Regions from separate parts of the Homo sapiens genome. Here regions 1 and 3 are each linked to region 2. A link means that fine-mapping ties the variant in region 2 to the expression of a gene that starts in the linked region. Tissue or cell type: whole blood. Region 2 holds a variant in brackets; each other region holds the start of a gene. All regions are shown on one strand. Distances are between the middles of the regions.

Region 1 (8,111 bases), 59 kb after region 2:
AATTGTAATTAAGTAAATGAAATTGTATGATTAAACAAATTTGATGAGTTTTCAGGGACATGTGTATTAGGTCTACCTCTTTTGTATATTTTTAATATAGCTTCCTTATTCTTGGCAACATTTTCCCTTCTTTCCTTTCTCCCTGTCATTCTTCCTTTCTAATGTCATATTTCCTATTCTAACTGTATCGCATTTAAAATGTCAATTCTGTAAGGGGAGAGAACACTTTTCTTTTATTTGTATCAAATTATATGATCTCCTGTAGATCTAAGCACATAGCCAGTGATAAATCAGTTACTGATTTTAAAAATTAATAAAGTCCAATTTAGAACTGTCCAGCCAACTGCATAGGGTACTTATAATTTCACCTTATTGTATATATGACAGGGATACATTACACTAAGGTAATACTAATATGTGTATTTGCCTTAAATTTACAATCATTGAATCTAAGTGTTTTTCTTTACACCCCTGCCCCAGGCTTCAGCACCAAGAATTAACCCTCTTGAGTCAAGATTCCGTCCTTTAACTATGCCCTTGCCTGTGGTTTTGACAGCTTTGGTAGGAGTCACACTGTCTTCTAAAGATGATTGTGTGGGTTGACTGTGGTTCTCTTTATTTCTTGATAGAAAGTAGCCATTCTCCAATGTGTTGCTTCCTGAATTGGATCTCCAAATAGCTTCACATACCAACAATAATAATAGTGACAGAAAAAATGTCATTCTGCTGTGTTTGAAAATTAAAATCCCAAAACCCAAATGTTATTGGAATAAAAGAATACATTATTGATTAATGATAAATAGATGATATATTGCTGTGGAGAGATAAAGACGATTGATAGAATAGATGAAAAGAAATACATAACTTTTATAAAGGAGGTATAGTAAAAAAAAAAAAAGAAAAGAAAAAAGAAGGTGGAGAAGAAGAAATAGAATGAGGGAGGCAGCAAGAGGCAAATGTCATAGAGTCAATTGGACCCATGACAGATTTGAAATAGCAACATCTTTCACCTTTCTTCTGTTATTTAAAAATGAGAGATCCTTGAGAAACTGCCCAGTACCTATAACATAGAACGCACTCAATAAACATTTGACTAATTAAGGAATGTCATGAAGACTCTCTGAAGGTGACTGACAACAGATTGCATGTGATATAAAATGTAAAAAAAATATTAATCCATTACAAAATATCGACTTAAGACCAAGTGCCTCAGGAAATTTCTGGTGTATTCAAAGGTGTTTATATTAAAGATCGGAAATAATTTCCTTAAATAATGTGAATCATAAAAATAGCTTAATGTCCATTTAGTGAATTTATTTCATTAGGAAGACAGCACCATATTGTACTTTCTTCTTCAGCTCCGCTTGTTTTCTTCATTAATTTATCCTTTGAATTCCACAGCTTTGAAACCAGCTATGTAAGGGAGGTAGGAGAGCAATGTAGTTAAGAGTATGAGTTTTTTAGACAGATCACCCAAATTTCTAATCATGGTCCCACCACTAACTAGCTTATAACCCTGGAAAGGTAAAATAACCTCTCAGTCTCTCACACCCTTTATAAGTGAAATGGGCATTAACAGCACCAACCCAATACAGATAAAACCAGATTATATACAAATTAAAGTAGATTATGCATGTCAAGCCCTTAAAAGAGTGCCTGGCACATAATAATTGCTTACTAAATTGTCTGTTGTTAATCTCCTCCACCAAATACTCACCCATGGTACCCAGGACCACAGCTATCACCAGTATTACCAAGCATAGGATTCCCAAAATTACAGCAATGAGGCGCCAAGGAGGAGATGCAGCACACGATCCTGAGGAGCCAGAGGGGGCAGAAATGGAATAAAGAAAGAGAATGACGGATGGTGGGGCAGTTTAATTCTACAGTTCATCAAAAATCTGGCCTTGCACGGTGGCTCACACCTGTAATCCCAGAAGGGAGACTGAGGTAGGAGGATTGCTTGAGGCCAGAAGCTCAAGACCAGCCTGGGCAACACAGGGAGACCCTGTCCCTACCAAAAAAAAAAAAGAAAAACAAAGAAAGAAAAAAAATTTAATTAGCTGGGCATTGTGGTGAGCTCCCGTAGTCCCAGCTACTCTGGAGGCTGTGGCAGGAGGATCACTTGAGCCTAGGAATTCCAGAGCAGCATAGGCAAAAAAGTGATACCCTGTTAAAACACACACACACACACACACACACACACACACACACACACCACCAACAACAACAACAAAAAATACTGGCAAATTTTTAAGTGAATTATTAATCACTGCCTAGGTTACCTGGTCACCTAGGATTTGCTGTGCTTCTCCACCAGTAAGGATACCTTCTTCTTCAATTGCTGGAATTGTAATTTCGGCACATTGGCTTGATAACTGTATGCTCCTAATTTCAGTTCCACATTGACATCTACAGGTCTTGACATTAGTAGGATCCCTGAAATCCCACTGATTCTTAGAGGAAATAGCTTAATGTTGGGGAGATAGCACTGATTACTAAGGGTAATTTTCCCTTTTCATATGTTTGTTGCATGACCCTGGGCAAATTACTCCCTTTGTTGTTTTTTATTCCTCTTTGTGAAACTGGGGTAATAATATCTCAAAGGATTATTGCGGGAATTAAACGAGCTAACACATATAAAAGCACCTTGTTTAGAGACTGCTAGCACATGATAGGTGTGTTGTTGCAGGATACCGTTTGCCTACACATATGCATAAACATGCGCATGTCTCCCTACCTCTTGCCTCATCCACTTTTTCCACGCTTCCTCAATAGGTTGCCCAAGAAAAGAATTACATCAGTGCTGAGAGGAAAATATTTGTGCAGTGTGAATAACCAGAAAGCAGAAGAAAGCAAACTCTGGTGTCAAAACCGACAAATGATCTCTCTCTCTCAAAGATAATAGGGAACTAATTTTGTATGAACATTGCCATAACCAGAATGTATTTCTGCTTTCCACTGTGACTAAGCTGTCAGGACATTTCATAGAATTGTCACATAGGAGAATCGTAGAGTAGGCTAAATCACCCATTCTATGAATACAGAGATCCTCCAATGCCCTTCTTTCTATTTCATTTCATTTACACTTTGTTTAAGACTCATGTCCTGCTGGTGGGATGTTTTTATCTACCATATGTTCATATATTTTCCATCACTGGTATACCAATAATTGTTTTTTGTTTAAAAACAATTTAAATTAATCTCTTACCACAAAAAAAAAATGTTGTTCATATATATACTTCTTTAAGTTTCCTGGCCTCCATTCGATAATCTAGCCTTTCTATCAAACAAGCAACAAGTCACTCATACAGAAATCCTTTATCTTTGTGTATTATCCCACTTATTACCAATTCCTCACTGATGAAATGTCTATATCTATAGAAAAGAGAAATTCTATTTTCTGCCATCAGACATAATTAATTTAAACACTAATAATTGGTCACTGAATAATTTTCATGAAAAAAGGTTTAGGGTGCATTCAATTTATCTTCAGTGACATCTGAAGCCTTTAAAAGTATATCCATAAAAATATACACATCACGAGGCTCTCAAATTTTCTCCCCTTATATCTTTTTGTTTTGTTTTTATTTTTATTTTTTTTCAGAGATGGAGTCTTGCTCTGCCACCCAGGCTGGAGTGCATTGGCATGATCTTGGCTCACTGCAACCTCCACCTCCCAGGTTCAAGTGATTCTCCTGCCTCAGCCTCCCAAGTACCTGGAACTACAGGCGTGCACCACCATGCCCGGCTAATTTTTGTATTTTTAGTAGAGACAGAGTTTCACCACGTTAGCCAAGCTGGCCTCGAACTCCTGACCTCAGTCAATCCACCCGCCTCGGCCTCCCAAAGTGCTGGGATTACAGGTGTGAGCCACCATGCCTAGCCTCCCCTTATATCTTTTCAAACGGGAGAGCTAAAGGCACACATTAGAAAAAACATATATATACCTTTCTCTGAAACAACAGCTATCCTGGTATTGCTTTGAGAGTCGAAGTGTAATTGAGTATATCCATCTTCATCCAAATTTTCTAAATCAGGATGATATTCCATTGTTCTTGAGAGCCCCTGAATAGATATAGCATTTGGGAGCTCTTTTCTTTCTGCTCCTGAGATGACTGTCTGTGGACAAAAGAGAATCTCTGAGTCAAATCATGTGGGCTAGGTACTTACCGGAGTTTAACAAATTAAGCTTAAGTAGTTCAACCAGATATTCAAGAGCAGGAAATGAAACTATGCTGTGGTAATTTTCCATTTGTACCTTTAGATCCTGTTTCTGAGACTGCTGACTCAGGAAAACTAAAAGGCAGCATAGCAGATGAGTCTTTGTTTCAGACCAAATGTAAGAAAAATGCATACATTAATGTCTTATGCTGCCTTCATTACTCTCACAACTAAGTCTGACATTAATTAATTTAACCGATGCAAACTATTTCAGTTTTGGTGCTCCAAGTTTACCATAACTTTGTTCATGTATTTATTCATGTATTTTTTAAATTACATAAACAGGTACTGGATGCCCACCTTTTCAATTGGTAGGAGCTTACAATACAAGGAAAAATGATACCTATGAAGAAACTCATTGCTTAATAAAGGAAATATATAGATAGGTAAATGAGGGATGGCATGAGGAGATGCATTGTTGTAACAACAGACAGAGAAAACAAATCTCTTTGGGAATTATCAGATATTAACACAAAATAACATTTATTGAACAATTACTATGAGCTAAGTACCACATGTTGTACATATTTTCTTGTTCAATCTCACTTTTCCAAGTCTATATAGTAGGCATTATTATTTCTATTTTCAAATGAAAAAATGAGACAGAAAATTTAGCCTCTTTCTCAGGTTTAAGAAGCTAATTTTAAAAATTTAGAGCAAGGAATCAAATCAAAGCTGACTCTTGCTGCAAAACTCGTGGTCTTTTCTGTTACGCTACACTGCCTCTTTCATCATTCCATACACTTATATTGCAAGGAACAGCTTATGGAAGGTGTTGGGACTGAAATATTATGTTAGATGTTTGATTTTTTTTCCCTCTCTTCCAGTTTCCATAGTAATGATCAAATCAAAGAAATATAGAAAACACCTAACATTGCTGGAAACTGAAGAGGTGTTCAACTCATTTATCCGACCTTGAAGCCAGTAGAGTGCAGGAGACATCTGAGTGTTGTCAAGGATCAACAAATCTGGATACTAGTTAATGTGGTGAGGACAGGTTTTATTCAGTAATACTATTGCAACAGGAACCAGTGCAGCATTAACTGAACTCAACTTCCCCAAAAGTAAAGCTGATGACATTTTAAAGTGGAGTTTGCTAAGGAAAAGATACTGAGTGGTGTTAAGGAAAGTTAATGTGACTAGACTCTCTGGATTTGTTAATTGGCCCTTATCCAGAGGACAGAGAAACTTTGCCTATCTATATGACAGAAGGACATGGTGATAGTTGAAGTGAAGCACCCAGCTAAGTTGGTCCTTATGCTGCATCTGAAAGAAAGAGCAAGATTTATCTCCCTGAATGTTTGCATTTCAAAGAAACAGCTCCCAAGTCCTTGAAGAAACAGTTCTGTGTGGTAGATTTGCTTCTCAAAGGGCAGAGAAAGAATTTAACTGTAAGATTTATTTTTCTTTTCTTTCTTTTTTTTTTTTTAGACGAAATTTCGCTCTTGTTGCCCAGGCTGGTGTGCAAATGGCACGATCTCGGCTCACCACAACCTCCGCCTCCCGGGTTCAAGCGATTCTCCTGCCTCAGCCTCCTGAGTAAGCTGGGATTACAGGCATGTGCCACCACGCCAGGCTAATTTTGTATTTTTAGTAGAGACAGCATTTCTCCATGTTGGTCAGGCTGGTCTTGAACCCCTGACCTCTGGTGATCCGCCTGCCTCGGCCTCCCAAAGTGCTGGGATTACAGGCGTGAGCCACTGCACCTGGCCTAACTGTAAGATTTCTAAAGTAACTGCTCTAAAAGGAATTCAGGAGCCTATCTGTTACCAAGTTTTTTGTTGTTGTTGTTGTTTTGAGACAGAGTCTCGCTCTGTTGCCCACGCTGGAGTGCAGTGGCGCGATTTCGGCTCACTGCAAGCTCTGCCTCCTGGGTTCACGCCATTCTCCTGCCTCAGCCTCCCAAGTAGCTGGGACTACAGGCGCCCGCCACCATGCCTGGCTAATTTTTTGTATTTTTAGTAGAGACAGGGTTTCATCGTGTTAACCAGAATGGTCTCGATCTCCTGACCTCGTGATCCGCCCGCCTCGGCCTCCCAAGGTGCTGGGATTACACGCATGAGCCACCACACCTGGCCTGTTAACAAGTTTTAACTGGAACAAAAAGTAAATTCTCCTAGCAGCATTGGGCTTCCTCAGGCTGGCCTTTTAAGTAGTGCTGAATCATCCTATGGACCTTGCCTTAGGCTACTAGAAGGCGTGCTAGAGTTTGCCAAGTCTCTAGTGCAGAGATTTGGGAGGAGTTGTTATATGATGAGGGCTCTGCAGTTCTGACAGTCTAACACCTATCAAAATGGAAGAGAGCTCAAGAGAGTACATAAATGAGCTTCCCGCCTTACTTAAGCTGCCACAAAAGTTTTACTAAGTTTTTGTAGACATGTTGCAAAGTGGTAATGTGGATCTTAATCTCAACATTCATCAGTGTTTCAGTCCTATAATGCAGTGCTTGGAAAGCAGCGTATGAGGTTCAGGACATGCAACCCCAAAATATGGATTCTTGGCATTTGAGAAAACAGCAGAATCAGGAAATTCACTCTCACACCTTTCCCCGTCTTTCTGCCCTGAAGCAGATCATAAGACCCTTATTTTAGAAGTATTGTTTCCTAGAGGAAAGAAACTTCCTTATCTTTGAAGATACAGAGATGCCAAGAAGAATCTGAACAAATTAGTCTTGCTAAGCTCCCTCCAGTTTATTAGCATTAGATCATACCCTCCTTGTCCAACGTAGGGGAGAAAAAGTAGTATCTTTTCCTTGCCCATCACCAGGTTCGTGACTGAGACCCCTATAACAAAAGACAGATTAACAAAACAAAAGCATGTAAATGTTATACGACAAGAGAGCCTTCTGAAATGAAGACGCAGGGAAAACTGAGTATTTCTACGGACAGTTATGCAGAAGTATGACTGGAGAACAAAAGGGTATAATCTAATGGTAATAAGCTGAGTAGAACTTAACAAGGCCTGTTTGTTCAGGTAACTTCTATTAAATAAATTTGGATGCTATTCTCTTGTTGATCTATGTTTTATTGTAGATGCCGTGAACCTAGCAATGAGTGAGGAAAAGGAATCTTTCACCCCTACAAAGGGATACCATGGAATTTCTCAAACAGTGAATACATTGGCTCCAGGAAAAAGGGTCGACCTCTTAAATAGAAATAGAGAACTAGAGAACAATAATGAGGGGAGTACCTTGCAGTCAGTAATAAGAAGCTGTCTTTACTATCAAATCAGACCTCCAGTGGGAGAGTTTTTCCCTATAGTGACTTTGACTGTCACCCTGTGTTTAATCACAATCCTATGAAAACAGTTAACTCTCTAAGTGGTCAAAGAAATTTTTCAATAAACATAAACTTTAGTCTAATTCTCATTATTCTCCTTTTTTGTCTCTTTGTCTAAAATAAAGCAATTAAACATTAATTATGCAAATCATTGACAAACTAGAAAAACAATACCCTTCGTATTTCAAGACAGTGGGAGAGATAGGCTGGGTATTCAGAGAAAAATACCCCTCATTAAATGTTAATGCAAGAAACAGGTGGAAGGCCGAGCATGGTGGCTCAGGCCTGTAATTCCTACACTTTGGGAGGCTGAGGCAGGTGGATCACCTGAGGTCAGCAGTTTGAGATCAGTCTGGCAAACATGATGGAACCCCATCTCTACTAAAAATATAAAAAATTAGCTGGGTGGGGTGGCAGGTGCCTTTAATCCCAGCTATTTAGGAGGCTGAGACAGGAGAATCACTTGAACCCAGGAGGTGGAAGTTGTAGTGAGCCAAGATCGTGCCACTGCACCCCAACCTGGGCAACAACAGTGAAACTCCATCTAAAAAAAAAAAAAAAAAAAAAGGAAAGAAACAGGTGGAAACAAACCAACCTAACAAAAGAAAA
Region 2 (8,111 bases):
TCTGCCCTAAGTCTGTAGACTCCCTGAAGCATGGACTATCTTATTCCCTAGAGACCATTAATAGCAAAGAACCCTGTGATCTACAGAAAGAACAGATTCTTTAATTATTATTATATTACTTGTTACCACTTACGTCCCTGCAAGAACGCCGTACCACATAGTAGGTTCTCAATAAATATTTGCTTAATTCAGTATAATTTTATTTAATTCTTCATTTCTCATAAAGAGGAGCTGAGATTCATTAGATTATCATCTTTTCTTCCTAAGCATAAAGGCATCACTTAAATATATAAAGTAAAAAAAAAACCTAATTCTCTGAGTCACTGGAAATCATTTAAATGAAACTAAATATCCTCTTACCTAAATGTCCTTTTACAATGGGTAAGGTTGTGTAAGGATGAGAAGAGCATGTTTTTGTTTATTTACCCTTGACCTAGAGTTTAAATGTGGGAGTTTAAGTAAAAGAGATTTTTCTCTAATTTTCTGCAGAACCTGAAAAAGGAGAATAGCAGAGAAAACACAGCATATATTGTCTCCTGTGTTTGATTTTTACAGCTGACAGCTGGCAGCTGAATGTAATAACCTGGAATAAAGGAGAAACAATAGTGGAATTTACTAGCAAAGACTGTTTGCCTTAAAGATTCTTCAAAGTATTGTCATGGAACTATGTTTAGAGGAAGGATACGAAGCACTTATAATCATTCTTTAAGAAGTACAATAAAGCAAAAGGCAAACATCCTTCAGCTGATGTCATCCCGTAGTGTATGATGCAGTATTTTCAAATTAGAATTTATCTACAGCGCAGCTGACTTCAGCTCCTACAAATCTCCTCAGCAGCGATGCTACTTTCCACACAGATGCTATAGTTGGGTGATTCTTCTCTGCAGGTTGCTTTTGGTCCAGGATACCAAGGCTTTTCAGATACAACACTGAGTATGCCAGTCTTATATCCTAGTCCCACCAACAATGAATTGGGCATCTTAGATCTCTTTCATTGAGTTCTAAGTTAGTCTTAAACAAACGAAAAGAAAACTAAAAATAAAACTATCCTGCAAATGTGAAGAGTTTTTTTACATGTTTGGTTAAAGTACATTAAATGTATAAAAAGTATACATAATAATATTGGTAGAATAATAGTAGATACTATTCGAGCCTAAAAATCTATTCATATAATGAAGCGTGTACAAAAGTCACGCAGACTTTAAATCAGAGGATCCTGATTTGTTTGTAATCTTCAAATACTGTAAGAATCTCTCTACAGAGGAGTTGACTCCCAAATATTAAAGCTGGCCCAGAGACAACCTGCTAACCTACTAGACTTTTCTCCTTGTTCATAATGTGTTTGTATCCTCAAAATAAAAGCTCCCCGTTACTCTTCTCACACTTCCTGCTGTTACAGGGCTCATGACCTGTTTCCTGTTGATAAATCCTGAAAGCTGGTTCAATATCCTCAGGAAAAGAAAGAGCTTATTGTGTACCGGAGATCTCAGCTCTACCAGGAAAGGCTGGGCTCCTCGTTTGACTGTTCCTGCAATTTCTTCAGAATTACATAAACAAGAACCTAGAAAGAAAAAAGTCTCCTCATCCAGAAAAACCAGTTCATACAGTGCCCCTCTCTGATTCTCAACTGGATATTGTTCTTAGCAAATCAGATTTTAAAATTCACTTTATCATTATGTCCTATTCTTAATATCATTTTTCTAAAGTGTGTAGTGAGAATGCTATGCTATACACTTTTTTCTGTTGTTTTGAAATGTTTGTTCACATTGTGATCAATATTGTGAGTTTTGCTATAAAGACAAAGGGATTAAGGGGAAACATGAAGAATAAACTCAGGGAAGGAGCTGAAGTATGTCAAATGTATGCTATTTTTTCCTCCTCACAATCTAAAGTGACACTATCCCTTAGTCCCAGACTTGGAATGACATACCATTCAAAACTCACTCTAGGCAGCTAGACCCTTCACATCAATGGCACTTAAAGAGTGGCTTGTCATCCATCCCTGAGCTAGACTGCAGCCACATAGGATGCTAGGAGTCAAAACTTAAATGAGTGCATGTCTCTGTTTTACAGCTTAGTCCACAAAATCATTTGACTTCCTCCTATCAGTCATATTTTCTTTCTGTAGCAACAAGGCTTACATAACAATTGCTTAACTGCAGGCTTACTTCTCATTTCTTGTTATGTACCTATTATATGAACTACTTTCATCGAAAATCTGCACTCATCATCAAAAATATTTGGTAATAAAATCCTTAGCTCCCCAAAGTAGGTGCCCTTCTACAATTTGTTCATAAATACAGATTTCCAAAGAAGTTTGTTGTTATTAATAAATCAAGTTTAGCCTAACGCTGCCTTTTTACGTATTTTAAGTTTAGCTTAAAGGATTCTCTGTACATAATGTCAACTATAACAAGTTGAGGGGTAAACAGACCCTAGTCTATACTTGTGCCAATCACTGTGCTTTGGCCAATCAAATGTAGCCAACTGTTTGAATTGTGTTCAAATAAGGCAAACTCCGAGCTGTAAGCAATCCAGCTTTTTCTGTACCTCACTTCCGTTTTCTTTACTACGTTTTCCTTTTTCTGTCCATAAATCTTCTTCCACCACATGGCTGCACTGGAGCCTCTGAGTCTACTCTGGCTCTGGAGGCTGCCTGATTTGTGAATGAGTCATTGCTCAATTAAACTCTTTTAAATTTAATTGAGCTGAAGTTTTTTTCTTTTTAACATTGCTTATGCATGTGTATGTGCGCCCCTATATTTAAAAATAAATCACTAGATCCTTTTAAAAATATTTTCTTGACTTCCCTTACATTTTTTATTGCAGTTCACATTATGAAACTGATTTCACATTTACTTTATTTCAGCTAACAGTAACATTATGAGGAAATTATAATTATTTCTACTTCATATGCAGTGAAATAGGTTTCATGAAGTAAAGTGACTTGCCTAATAAGTAAATCAGAATAAGAGGTCTAAAATCTTCATTTTCTAACCACAAATACAGTTTTCTTTGCATGACACAATATATCAACAGAACTTGCTCGACCCTGAAGAAAATTTTAAGGAAATCAACAGAAAATTGAAAGGAAAGTTCTCAAGGAAGAATCCGCAATAGTCTTTGCTAAGTGACAATCTAACAAAATGAAGTTTATGAAAATGAGCACCAATGTGTTCTTTCTATCATATGATTGCTACTATACGTCATTTTACCATGAGATAGATGTTTATGAAAAACAAAACTGAAGCACCTCAGTTTCCACTGTTGAAAAACAAAGATTTATAATGTTATCTTTTCTAGCATAAAACCCTCAAAATTGATTTATCAGTAAACCAATAAACTTGGTGGCTGTGATGGTGTCATTCCCAATGATCCCTGTTATATTTGTGCATGGAGTCGTCTCAAGAAAGAAGTGCCTCACAAAGGAGCAGCTACAAAGATGTCACTGTCTCTGTTCATTTCCCATGACCTGAC[T/C]GGAAATCATGTGCACTAATGCAACTCAGCTTCCTCATCAACCATGTGTTGATGCCATAAGCTCACCTCAAAAGATTTCATTTTAGGAAAACGTTAAAACTGTTTTCTTGAAGCCAACACGTATTTCAAAGACATCTTATTTTCTCCAGATAATCATGTAATCAGTACTCTTGTAAATTCCCCAAAAACTTTCAGTAAGGCACAATCAAAATAATGACCGCTATCATATTTTGAAAAGCATTTCCATGCTGAATTTTCCCACCAACCATAAGTCCATTGTAAAATCACACACACTTCACAGTATTTACATTTATTATTATTAAATCTTCAGTACCTGAAAGGTATAAATATGGGTCAATGGAAGAAAATAGGAACTGAAACTATTACAGGTGCAGATGAAGAGGCTCACTTTTTTCTGGTCTTTAATCTCTCTGAAGGGAATATCGGGGACGGTAGTTCTGATATGAAACGGAGATGGGGATATATTTCTTTCCTGGGAGAAATTCCTATGGAGGGGAGACAATTATCAGAGTCTTAATGGACACAGGAAGGAATGCTTATAAGGCATTGAGATTTGAGATTCTCATATCAAGTGACATCCCTGTTGGGAAACGGCATGGACAAGGCAGATGGGGTCTTTACTGATGGATTGGGAAGGGACTAGTATGAACTGAAACAAACAAAAAGAATTCCTTGTGTATTTGCTGGTACAATCTGGGAAGTGACTGCCAATTTCTGATGGACTACTTGACTGTCAGAGAAAAGGATGTTACCTCAATGTATTTCCTCTACTTCAAAAAGTTTCTTATTCCACCAAGTGTAAGGAAGACATGAAAACAGGGAGGTGATATTAGACATTGAGAAGAAAGAGAGCTAAAAGTTATCTCTAAGCCAAGAAGGCAGATGACATTATGGGTTTCTGAGGTTGGTTGGTGGCATGTAAATAAGACTTCTTGTGACTGTTAAATACGTGCATAAACCCAAGCTCAGAAATGCTGGTGATCCTGAACAGGAAACACGAGAACCCATTTTGTACTAGTCAGAGAGATAGTCTTTCCTGATTATGTTCCATTTCCCAATGTCTCAACTAGCCCTTGCTTTGGCACCGCCTGGCTCACTCTGCTATTTGTAGTTGCAGAGGGCGAATCAGTCACCTTCGCCTAATGTTTCAGGGGGGACATGGAGGCTCTCTGGCTTCACCATTCCTGCCCTTCTCTCACAGACACAACGCTTCAATTCTTTGCAGTCCTTTGAGAAGATCATCCCATTAAGGATGGCCACACAGTCTCTGCTTCTTGGGCTGGTGACATCTATTATAATATGGAACCTTAAGAAAGGAAGAAAAAGTAAATTCAATCACGGTTTATTTCTAAAATAAAATATTAAATACCCATTCTTTCTAGAGTTATAAAATTATAGTCTAGATACCAGAATAAGTTTACCGGGAAACTGGGGTCATGTGCCTCTTTCTCTTCAGCCCCTAAGTTTCCATACTCATTCTTAGAAACAGCAGGTCACCCCAAACAGCAAAAACCATTTCTAACTAAAGCGAAGCTACGTGTTCTCCTCCAAATTTATATAGTGTTTCTGCCACTTAAAAAGTTCTCTACCTTCTCTGTAACTCAGTTTACTTAACTGTAAAATACAAATGATTACATCAAATATATCCTGTCTCCTGGGAGAATAATGATATATTGTATATAGGGAAGAATGGTGTCTGTTCAAATATGGCTTTAAATGTGATATATTTTGATAGAGAAATTACAATTTCCTCTTTCAAAGGATACTGATGTGGTTTGGATGTGTGTTCTTTCCAAATCTTAGTTGAAATGTTATCCCCAGTGTTGGAGATGGGGCCTGGTGGGAGGTGTTCGGGTCATCGGGGTGGATCCCTCATGAATGGCTTGGTGCCCTCTTCTTGGTGATGAGTGAGTTCTCACTCAGTTAGTTGATGCAAGATCTGGTGGCTTAAAAGGGCCTGGAACCTCCCCCCAGCCCCTTCTCTTTTGTGTTCTCTCTTGCCATTGGACATGCCAGCTCTTGCTTCGCCTTCTGCCATGAGTAAAGCTCCCTGAAGCCTCCTCAGAAGCCAAGCAGATGCTTGTACAGCCTGCAGGATTGTGAGCCAATTAAACCTCCTTTCTTTATAAGCTATCCAACCTCAGGCATTCATTTATGCTGATGCAAAAATGGACTAACACAGATACCATATGTACTCCTGTCTAAATGCTCACAGCATATGTACGACTAGTGTTTTATATTACCCCTTACATTTTCAGCAAATCTTTTCTCAGAGATTGTGTTTTTTAAAAGATGTGCTCCCTATTTTGCTGCACAGAAAGCCAAGAACTCTTATGCTATCTCTGGGTACTGACAAGTTGTGTGACTTTAGGCAACCACCATTACAGCCTGGACTCCTGGGCTTCAATTTACTCACTCAGGGAAAGATCTCTCTCTCTCTCTCTCTCTCTCTCTGTCTCTCCCTTCTCTCATCTGCAGTATGTCCCAGACACAAACTTCTGAAAGCAGCAAGAGAACTACCCTGATATTTTACTAATGCTATGTATCTGTCTCCCTCACTGGCTTATAAGCAGTTCAAAAGCAGGCACTGGCCGGGTGCGGTGGCTCATGCTTGTAATCTCAGCACTTTGGGAGGCCAAGATGGGCAAATCACTTGAGTCCAGGAGTTCTAAACAAGACTGGGCAACACATCATAATCCTGTCTTTCCAAAAAAGACAAAAAATTAGCTGCATGTAGTGGTGCACGCCTGTAGTCCGAGCTACTCAGAAGGCTGAGGTGAGAGGAGAGCTTGAGCCTGGGAGGCAGAGGTTTCAGTGAGCAGAGCTTGCACCACTGCACTCCAGCCCATGCAACAGAACAAGACCCTATCTCAAAAAACAATCAAACGAACAAACACACACACACACACAAACAAAATGAGGATGCACTATTGTTCAAATATCTTCAGGCATCCTCCTGCAAACACAGTATCCAGTACAAAGCAGAAGTTTGATTAATACTTGATGGACCAAATTCTTGAGCTCTATCACTCAAGCAAAATATCTTTGTTAAATGCCTTTCCCATAAAATATCCTGAAGGCTTACAGTTCAGAAGTGAAAGGGGTTCCATCCATCCACAGCCAGGCCTTGCCACTGTCAGGGCGCAAAAGCCCTGTCCAATAAGAGTAGAAAAACTCAGAGTAGCTCTGAGACGCGGCAAATTCCTGTGAAAAGCACATAAGAAAAGCTTTAGCTTTGGTGGCATGATTACTCACATGTACAGACATGCATGGGCCAGCCAGCACTTTTCTCAAAGCACACACAAGTCCTGCTTCACATTGATGCTCATATGCTTAAGAGAAAAAGCATCTATGCTGAGGCCAGTCAGAAATTTGTCCAGGTTTAATAACTTATTTTGTCTTAGTAAATATGGAACACATGTCGATATTCTGAAAGCGGAAATCACATCAACCAAGATTTGTTCCTGACCCATGGCTTTTAAGGCACAGAATTAAACATTAATGTTGACATAAAAATATGAGGGAAAGACTAACAAAGAGATGCAGAATGATTCTGGGACATGGAAGAATATGGAGGGAAAAGTGCAGGAATGAGGTAGTAACCGTTATAAATACCTGGGAAAGGAAGAAAAAAAGTAAAAGAAAAATTTGCAAGGATGATTTATGTCTTAGACTAGGAAGAGAAGAAAGAAATTTTTAAATTTCTATCTATAAATATTTATGTGCACACATGTGTATAGTCCTATACATGGTAATCCTTTTCCCAATATCCATATTTAACATATGTTTACATTTTAAAAGTTGTTTACTTACTTCTATCTAGTCTCACTCTGCACTCCTAATAGATATTTTTGGAGGATTGGTGGCGACAGGGTCTCACTCTGTTGCCCAGGCTGGAGTGCAGTGGCACGATCATAGCTCACTGCAGCCTCAACCTCCCCAGGCTCAGTGCACTCCTAATATTTTAACATAGAAATTATCTAAATATTTATTATAATTATCCATTTAAATAATGAGTTTCTCAAGGCCGTACACTTTGTTTCATTGTTACATCCAAAACCCCTCAGATAATTAATAAAATATACTGATTTAATGAGAGATTATTGAAAATGTAAATGAAGCTATTACCAAGCAATAGTCGTAGAGTGAACAGGTGAAAATAACTGTAGTTGAAAATATTTATTCCAATTAAATGGGCGGGTGCCTTCAAATTAAAAATTTTGAAAGCAAATCATATGAAAAAGATTTAAATATATACAAATATATGAAGTTCATGATAGAAAATAACTACATAGGTTCAACAAGACAATTTCCTACCACGTGATATAATATAGTTCAGTTTTATACCTGAGTTTGCAGTGTATGCTGGAGGCAGAGGAATCAAAGAGAATAAGAAAAATTAGGAGGGTTTATGCTAGGGCACACTGTCTTAGTCAAAGAAATTGCCTCGCTTTCTGCCTAAATTAAGCCATCGAGAAAGGGTTATAAAATATTAGTAGCCGAGAAAAATTACAGAGGTTCTTTCATCACAGATTTCAGGAGGTAGGTAGAAATTAAGAAGTAATTAGAATGATGTTAAGAATTTGTGTAGTGAGCTGAGCATTTAATTCAAT
Region 3 (8,111 bases), 39 kb before region 2:
TAATAGACCAGAACTTATAAATTTAGTCTTAGGTAGTTTGTAAGAGATGTAAACTAGTATCATACCAGGTATTATAATCCTGGCAAAAAAATAAGCTTACTGTATTCCAATCACTTTCATTATAGATCATCTGTATGAGGTTACCTCTAGGTAATCAGAGGGCTAAATAGGAAATTCATTCCATGGAAGCAAATCATTGTGGTTAAGGGCACAGATCATGCAATAAAACTGCCTGCCTGCCTGCCTGCCTGCCTTCCCTCCCTCCCTCCCTCCCTTCCTCCTTCCTTCTTTCCTTCCGTTTCTTTCTGTCCCTCTCTCCCTGTCTCCTCTCTCTCCCTTTCTCTTTTTCCCCATCTCGCTGTCTCTCTCTGTCTCTCTTTCTCTCTCTCTCTCTCCCCCGCTCTCTCTCCTTCTCTCCCTCTCTCTCTCTCCTCTTTCCCTCTCTCTATCTCGGATCACTTGGTAAACACCAAGACAAAAACCTGCCAAAAGAAAAAGGAATAGCTCACCACAATTTTCTAAGAACTTGACACACATCAGGGAAGAGATTGTGCCATCTTATAACAGTCACAATTTCCTAAGACTCTGACACAGTCAGAGGATTATGCCATCTTCCCACACTCACAGTTGGATATGCCATGTGATAACCCCAGCCAGGAAGGAGACAACAGTGAGACACAAGGTTCTGTAGAAGACAAAAGCAGAACATAAGCCAAATCGTCCATGATGCTGCCTCCTGGAGTTGACTTGACCATGATGAAATGTAACCGAAATTGACAATATTCCATGACACCACCACGGCTTCTGTGCTGTGGATGGACATTGAAAAAAAATGCACAAGTTAGGAAGTTGTTTTCTTATCCTGCCTTTTCCTCTGCCTCCAAACTCTATTAAATCCAATATAAATAAAAATCTCATTAAGTGTTTACTTTTTAAAGCTTCTTCCCCGGATCAGTCGTACATTCTCTTCTTTCAGCATACTTTTCATTTACCTAGACTGAAAATTTGATTCCCTAATGAAACGTGCTCTCCTAAAACTTTCCAAAGTATTGCATTTGATTGTCAGAATTGTCAGAAGGCAGGTGAGTTGTTGTGTAAACCTTAACTTTATACAATAACAATGTATCCACCTTAGAACAATTATAAATTCAAGATACGATGTATTTTTTAAATTATTCTCTTTTTTGGTTTATATTTTATTTTCTTCTTCTTGTACACTATTATTTCCCTAGATTCTCTTTTCCAGAATGATGTGTTAGATTTGGAATTCAATAATGAAAGACAAAAATAAGTATTTAAATGAGGAAGTATATATTTCCTCTGTCTCTTTTTGTTATCCTATTCAATATGCAAAACCAGGCTGTGTGATCTAAATCAAGTTTCTTATCCTCTAAAGCCTAGGTTTCATATCTAAAAATTAGGAATGATATTACCAGACTTGTAAGGCTGTTGTTTGCACACAAAGGAAGAATTAAATGTGATCATTTATAGACTCGCCTGAGAGCATAGTATTTTATTATTAGGTACTCAATAATTTTTTTAACTTACCCTTACCTTCTCACCTCACCTCTGTAAATTTTAACAAAAGACAGGAGACCTGCATATTTACCAATTCCTTATTCTCTATATTGAGTAAGGTAGAAATTTTAGAGATCCTCTAAAAATTTTTATCCTTGCTGTCTTGCCATGTTATGGATTCCTGAATTATTTTATATTACTGGTCTTTTGCTCCATTGCCACCTTTCAGGACAGGGCTTACATCCATTATCTGAAAAGCCAGACGTATATATTAATTATCTTGATTTCTTTATATTAAATATGGACCATTTAATGCAATGTTTGAGTTAGTCTTACAAATATCTCATTTCCTCCCATGTTCACAATAGCCAAAATATGAAAACAAGCTAAATGTTCATTTCATTGATGAACAAGTGGATAAAGAAAACATAGTGTGTGTGTGTGTGTGTGTGTATATATATATATATATATATATATATATATATATATATATATATACAAGAAAAAACTTTCCACAAGAACCTCCATGTCCTCATTTAGAATTTAATTTAATTTTTTACCTCACACACCTCTTTTTTTTTTTTTTTACTTCCACTTGACACCTTTCTGGGGTAATAGGTATGTTGTACCTGAATTCCACTCTCCCTCAAAATATCTGTCTCAAATTTGTATATACATTAGTAGGTATCAATCAGGAAGGTCTCCCTCAACCCATTCAATAGGCCCTGCCACAAAATTTGAAAAGTTTAAAAAATTCAGAGCCCTGCTTATGTACATGGGTGTACATTTTTGCAGACAAAAATCCCCTGTGCCCTACCTACTCAGCAATCTTCCCCCTTCCTATCAATCTTCCTCTTCCCCTGAATCATTGGTCACAACTGATCTCTTTGTTTTCTTTGTCTTGGTTTTTCTCGAATGTCATATAGCTAGGATAATATGATAGCTTTTCAAACCGGCTTCTTTCACGTAGTAATATGCATTTAAGATTCCTCCATGTTTTTCATAGTTTGACAACATTTCATTTTGTTGTCGAATGATACTCCATTGCATGAATGTACCACAGTTTGTTTATCCACTCATCTTTTGAAAGACATCATAATTACTTCTAATGTCTGGCAATTATGAATAAAGCTCCTGTGAAAATGTGTGTGCCAGTTTTTGTGTGTGTTGGGAGCAAGCCCCCCAAAATCCGGCCATAAACTGGCCCCAAAACTGGCCATAAACAAAATCTCTGCAGCACTGTGACATGTTCATGATGGCCCTAACACCCATGCTGGAAGGTGGTGGGTTTACGGGAATGAGGGCAAGGAGCAGCTGGCCCGCCCAGGGTGGAAAACCACTTAAAGACATTCTTAAGCCACAAACAATAGCATGAGCAATTTATGCCTTAAGGGCATGTTCCCGCTGCAGTTAACTAGCCCAACCTATTTCTTTAATTCGGCCCATCCCTTTGTTTCCCATAAGGGATACTTTCAGTTAACCTAATATCTACAGAAACCATGCTAATGACTGGCTTGCTGCTAATAAATACGTGGGTAAATCTCTGTTCGGGGCTCTCGGCTGTGAAGGCTGTGAGACCCCTCATTTCCCACTTCACACCTCTATATTTCTGTGTGTGTCTTTAATTCCTCTAGCGCCTCTGGGTTAGGGTCTCCCAGACCGAGCTGGTCTCAGCAGTGTGTACAGGTTTTCCACTTTCTATGGTTCCTAGATTGTCTGTTAATACTATACTTACCTCTATAAGAAACTGTCAAGTTTACCGGGCCGCGAGGGTGCAGGCTGCGCAGATGGTGTGGTCCTGCGCCCCGAGGGCCGCAGCAGCTCATCCGGCAGCTCCCACCCCAACAACCTGGAAGGGGGCGGGACTTCCGTTTGTACCCGGCTGTGGCAATCTGTGGTGAAGTTGAAATGCTTTTCTGCTAGACTGGCAACATGTTTTGATTCTTCTCAAATAACTCGCAAGCTCTTGTGAAGCACAACGGCCTACCTTGTCCTGAAGAAAACATACTCTAAGGCCCACAGATGATTAAACCCAGCCATTTATGTGACAATAGCATTTTTATTTTTCTTATCAAGATCTGGGTATTTGATCCACACAATGGTAAAGATTCCCATGTTAGCCAAGATCTAAATGATTCAAACTGATGATACTCTCTGCAGAAGAGGTAAGAACCACTGGCAGTAGGGTGGAAGGTATGTCATTACAGATGATGCTGACAGAGAAGGTCATCTGAACCTACTTTATAAGAAAGGCATGATTAAAGGAGAAAGGGGAAAGGGCATTCTAGGTTAGGAAAGATTCTGAAGAAATGTAAAATAATATGAAGGTGTGAGCTGATATATTTAAGAAATAATGAATGATATGTGGGAGTATGTATCATCTGCAGAGATGGATGAGGGAAGATGCAAGTGGAGGGGAAGGCTGGAGCCGCTGGTGGAAAGACGTTAAGTGTATTTCAATGGCCTGATACTGCAGGCAGTAGACAGCCTCTGTAAATCAGGTAGCTTCCTTACTCTTGCTCCTACTGATCCCTCAGTCTAAAATGCCCTCTGCACTTTCTCTTTAGAGATAGAGAGGGAAAGGGAGTCAAACACGAAATCTCCAGGAGGCCATCCCTGGTTATTTCTTACTCCTCTGTTGATTTCCTTTAATCTGTGAAGTGTCTTCTAACTCGTGGCCTGAGGCTTTAGTGACTCTGCTGACTCATTGTCTGGTGCTACTGATTGTGCTAATGGTCTTCGATATTGTGTCCAGTGCCCCCCACCATTTTGGGAAGAAATTGGCTTTAGTTTTTACTCAGATTGAAATTTTATTTAGAAACGGGAGTAGCAAGACCAGGTGCAGTTAGTTACACCTGTAATCCCAGCATTTTGGAAGGCCAAGGTGGGAGGATTGCTTGAAGCCAGGAGGTTGAGAAATGGGAGTAGCAACCAATGTCGGTAGAAGAAACAGCATATAATAACAGGATGTGATAAATCTCAAGAAAAGTTACGCACAAATTACTATGGCAGCAGGAACGAGTGAGCCGCCCGATGCTGTCAGTGAAGGCTCTGAGGATTGGGAAGGATTGGCAGGGTTACAGGAGACAAACAAATGCTACAAATAACATTCCAAGTAGAAGGGGAAGTGAGGGTAGGGAAAGGAATGCAGACAAGGCTGAGCCTTGTTTGGAGAGCTAAGTTCAGTGTTGCAGATGCTCAATGTCATACCTTAGGAGGGAATTGCAAATTAAAACAACAATGAGAAACCACTGTATACTATTTGAATGACTAAAATCCAAAATACTCACAACATCCAATGCTGGCAAGGATGTGGAGCAACAGGAGCATTCATTCACCGCTGGTGAGAGGTAAAAAGGCATAGCCACTTTGGAAGGCAGTGTGGCAGTTTCTTACAGAGCTAAGTATAATATTAACATACAATCTAGCAACCATAGACGCAGGACAAGAACTCGGGCAAAGACGCCACAGCCACACAGGTTTCTGAACAGAAAATCAACATCCCAAAGATCCCGTAACATAATCTATGCTCAATCTCCATCTGTATATTAAAATCCATCCACCTACCTCCTTAGGGATTTCTTTTTTTTTTTTTTTTTTTGAGACGGAGTCTCGCTTTGTCACCCAGGCTGGACTGCAGTGGCGCAATCTCGGCTCACTGCAATCTCCGCCTCCCGGGTTCACGCCATTCTTCCGCCTCAGCCTCTCGAGTAGCTGGGACTAAAGGCACCCGCCACCAAGCCTGGCTAATTTTTTTTTATTTTTAGTAGAGATGGGGTTTCACCGTGTTAGCCAGGATGGTCTCGATCTCCTAACCTCGTGATCCGCCCGCTTCGGCCTCCCAACGAGCTGGGATTACAGGTGTGAGCCACCGCGCCCGGCCAATAGGGATTTCAAGCTTGTAATTTTCTTTCTTTGGTTCGCTCTGGCACTATCAATTTCTTTTCATCTCCACTTGTTCACTCACCTTCACCTCCCAACATGGTATAATATCTCCTATGTTAAAAACAAGCAAAAGCCATCTTTTGTTTACCATGCCCCCATACACACGATTCTAATTTTCTTATATTTCTTCTTAACATTTCTCTAATTTTCTTGACAACAAAAATGTTCAAAAATCTCTCTGTGCTTACTGTTTCATCCTACTTTTCCTTTATGTTAATTAGGCTTTTTCCTTCACTATTTCTATGAAAACACTCCAGTCAAAGTCACCATTAACCTCCACATGAACACATCTAATGGCTAGTTCTCAGAATTCATCTCACGCACCAGATAAGCATTCAAAAAAAAAAAAGATTATTCCCTTTTCATAACATACATTCTTCTCTAAAATACAGTGTTCCCTAGGACACCGTTCTCTTCAATTTCCTTTTGCTTCATTCACAACCCAATCCTCCCTCAGATTTGGATTCCTCCTTAAATTAATTTAAAATGTTGTTGTGTCCCAGAATTCAGTTCTTGGTCCTCTTGTTTTTTTTTTAATTTATCCTGGGATGAACTAAATTGGATAGTACCCATAGAATGGCCAGAATGGGAATTAATCTCTTGTAACCTCATGACTTAATAGCCATACATTGATAATGTCCAAAATTATATTTCCATACCATTGCTTGATCTCCAGAACCACATATCTGACTGGATTCTTGGCATATTGACTTTGATATATTTTAGGATTTTTTAACTTAACACATCAAAAAATGAGTGACTCTTCCCAATGAGTTTCTCCATCTCGATAAATGAATATTCCATACCTACGGTTCCTCTGCCAAAAACTTGGAATCACCTTTGACTTTTCTTGCTGCTCTCACATGAATTAAACATGTCAGAAAATATTGTTCACCTTGGAAAATATGGAAGCACAGTTATTAATTATGGAAGTATTGTTGATTGAGAATACCTTAAAAGAAATGCTGAGTTAACATGATAGGAGGATTCATTCTCACTCTGTTCTTTAACAGTCTTTCCATTCTCACATCTTATGCCTGTTTCAGAGGACACTTTTAAAGTGGGGCCTAAATTGGATAGTACCCAGAGAATGGCCAGAATGACAATTAATTCAGAATTATTTACAAAAAAAGAAATAGGGAAAAATGAAGATGAAAGCCAGAGTTATCAAAGGCATAAGGGAAACAAAAATAAACTAAAAGCAGAAGAAAAATAAATGGCCACAAGGAGGAGACAGAGGATGGATATAGGATGGAATTTATTTTTAAATGTATTAATATAGTCACCCAATTAGGTGAGTATGCCTGACCAGGATAATAAAATGTCTGAATTAAAATGAAGCACTGTGAAGACAGGCTGATTGATTCAAATCCTGGATCAACACTTACTTGCCCTGTGGCTTTTGGCAAGTTACTGAGCCTCTGTGCTTTATTTTTCTTAGCAGTAAATTTGTCATAAGTTTAATGCCTACCACAAATGTAACTGATAAAAGCATATAGAAAGAGCAATAAATGGCAGCTGTCATAGTGGAAGTAAGTTTGGATTATTCTGGATTATCTTAAAAAAAGGAAGAAAGCTGGGACATTGCCCAAGCACTGACAGTGAAGCTTAAACAAACCAATTCTCATGAGCCCAACCAGGGTCTGCCTCCAGCCTGTCTGGAAGAACTCAATTATATCACTTTTCTTCATTTGTAGCACTTTTCATGATGTAAAATTATGTTGATCTTTGCTTTCGATGTAAAATTATATTGGTCTTTGCTTTCTATGTTTCTTTACTATCTGTGCTCCCCACCCTTTACTATAATACAAGCTCATTGCTTGTATGATTCATTAACGATTAGTCCCCAGAAAATAGAAACATGCCTGGGACTTCCACAGTGATCAATAAACATATGAAATGGGAAAAGTTCTCTTGTCCCCCTAGCAGAGTGTGCAATGGAGGTATGGCTCGCTTCTTCAGTGCCCCGCTACTCAGACCTCTAGGGGAGGGGCAGGCTGTGGGGCTCCGGCCCCACGGTAGTGTCTAGGAGTAAATGTTTGTATCTGAAGCCCCAGTGGGCGTGTGTTACAGGGTGCTCTTTTAGTTTAGCCGTCCATAGGTGGCTTGTGTTAGTCAGCTCAATTAGACCCCTACCTTATAGCAAGGACAGAGGCTTTCTGCATCCCAGGGTTCTTACCTTGGTGTACTGGAAGAATCAGATCACACGTGGGCTTGGAGAATGAGTGCAAGGTTTTAGTGAAAGGAAGTAGCTCTCAGCGGATGGTGGAGCCAAAAGGGTGATGGTTTTCCCCTGGAGTCTGGCCACTCAGTGGCCCAGGCTCTCCTCTGATTGTCCCGGCCAAACTCTGCCTTGTTTCACCAGTTGGTGGCCTGCCGATATGCTCTTGACGTCCAGCCACTTATGTCTTGTTCCATTGATGACTACTCTCAATGTCCAGCCACTTATGTGTCTGCCTGCTAGGGTCTTGGGGGTTTTATAGGCACAGGATGGGGACATGCGGGCCAGGATGGTCTTGGGAAATGCAACATCTGGGCATGAAGGCAGGAGTGCCTGTCCTCATCCAGGTCGGTGGGCAAAGGCCCGGGGGTGGAGCCCTCGCCAGGGATCCGCCTTTCTCTATCCAGCACTTCTCTGCCCCACTTCT

Evidence for each region. PIP is the estimated chance that this variant, and not a neighbour inherited with it, causes the effect.
Region 1: it holds the start of CLEC7A, and the variant in region 2 is fine-mapped to the expression of CLEC7A in whole blood (TOPMed, PIP above 0.99).
Region 3: it holds the start of CLEC9A, and the variant in region 2 is fine-mapped to the expression of CLEC9A in whole blood (INTERVAL, PIP above 0.99). The same link has a PIP of 0.9 or more in neutrophils.

What each region holds. Positions count from the first base shown.
Region 1 is chr12:10,126,030-10,134,140 of GRCh38, forward strand. CLEC7A (C-type lectin domain containing 7A) reads right to left here and starts at 4,170. Exons shown (of 6, transcript NM_197947.3): 1 at 3,951-4,170; 2 at 1,718-1,816; 3 at 542-679. The coding sequence starts at 4,053. LOC105369655 (a long non-coding RNA gene) reads left to right here. Exons shown (of 4, transcript XR_007063208.1): 2 at 5,052-5,211; 3 at 5,656-5,763; 4 at 7,257-7,585. RefSeq lists an enhancer at 7,709-8,111.
Region 2 is chr12:10,066,710-10,074,820 of GRCh38, forward strand. It overlaps CLEC1A (C-type lectin domain family 1 member A), which reads right to left. Exons shown (of 6, transcript NM_016511.4): 5 at 6,584-6,702; 6 at 2,845-4,804. The coding sequence ends at 4,624. Among named protein-coding and RNA genes, the nearest start is that of CLEC1A, 28 kb to the right of the region's middle. The variant T/C (reference allele first, on the strand shown) is at 3,478.
Region 3 is chr12:10,027,290-10,035,400 of GRCh38, forward strand. It overlaps CLEC9A (C-type lectin domain containing 9A), which reads left to right and starts at 3,393. Exons shown (of 9, transcript NM_207345.4): 1 at 3,393-3,683. LOC102724020 (a long non-coding RNA gene) reads right to left here and starts at 3,334. Exons shown (of 4, transcript NR_169587.1): 1 at 3,254-3,334; 2 at 510-685.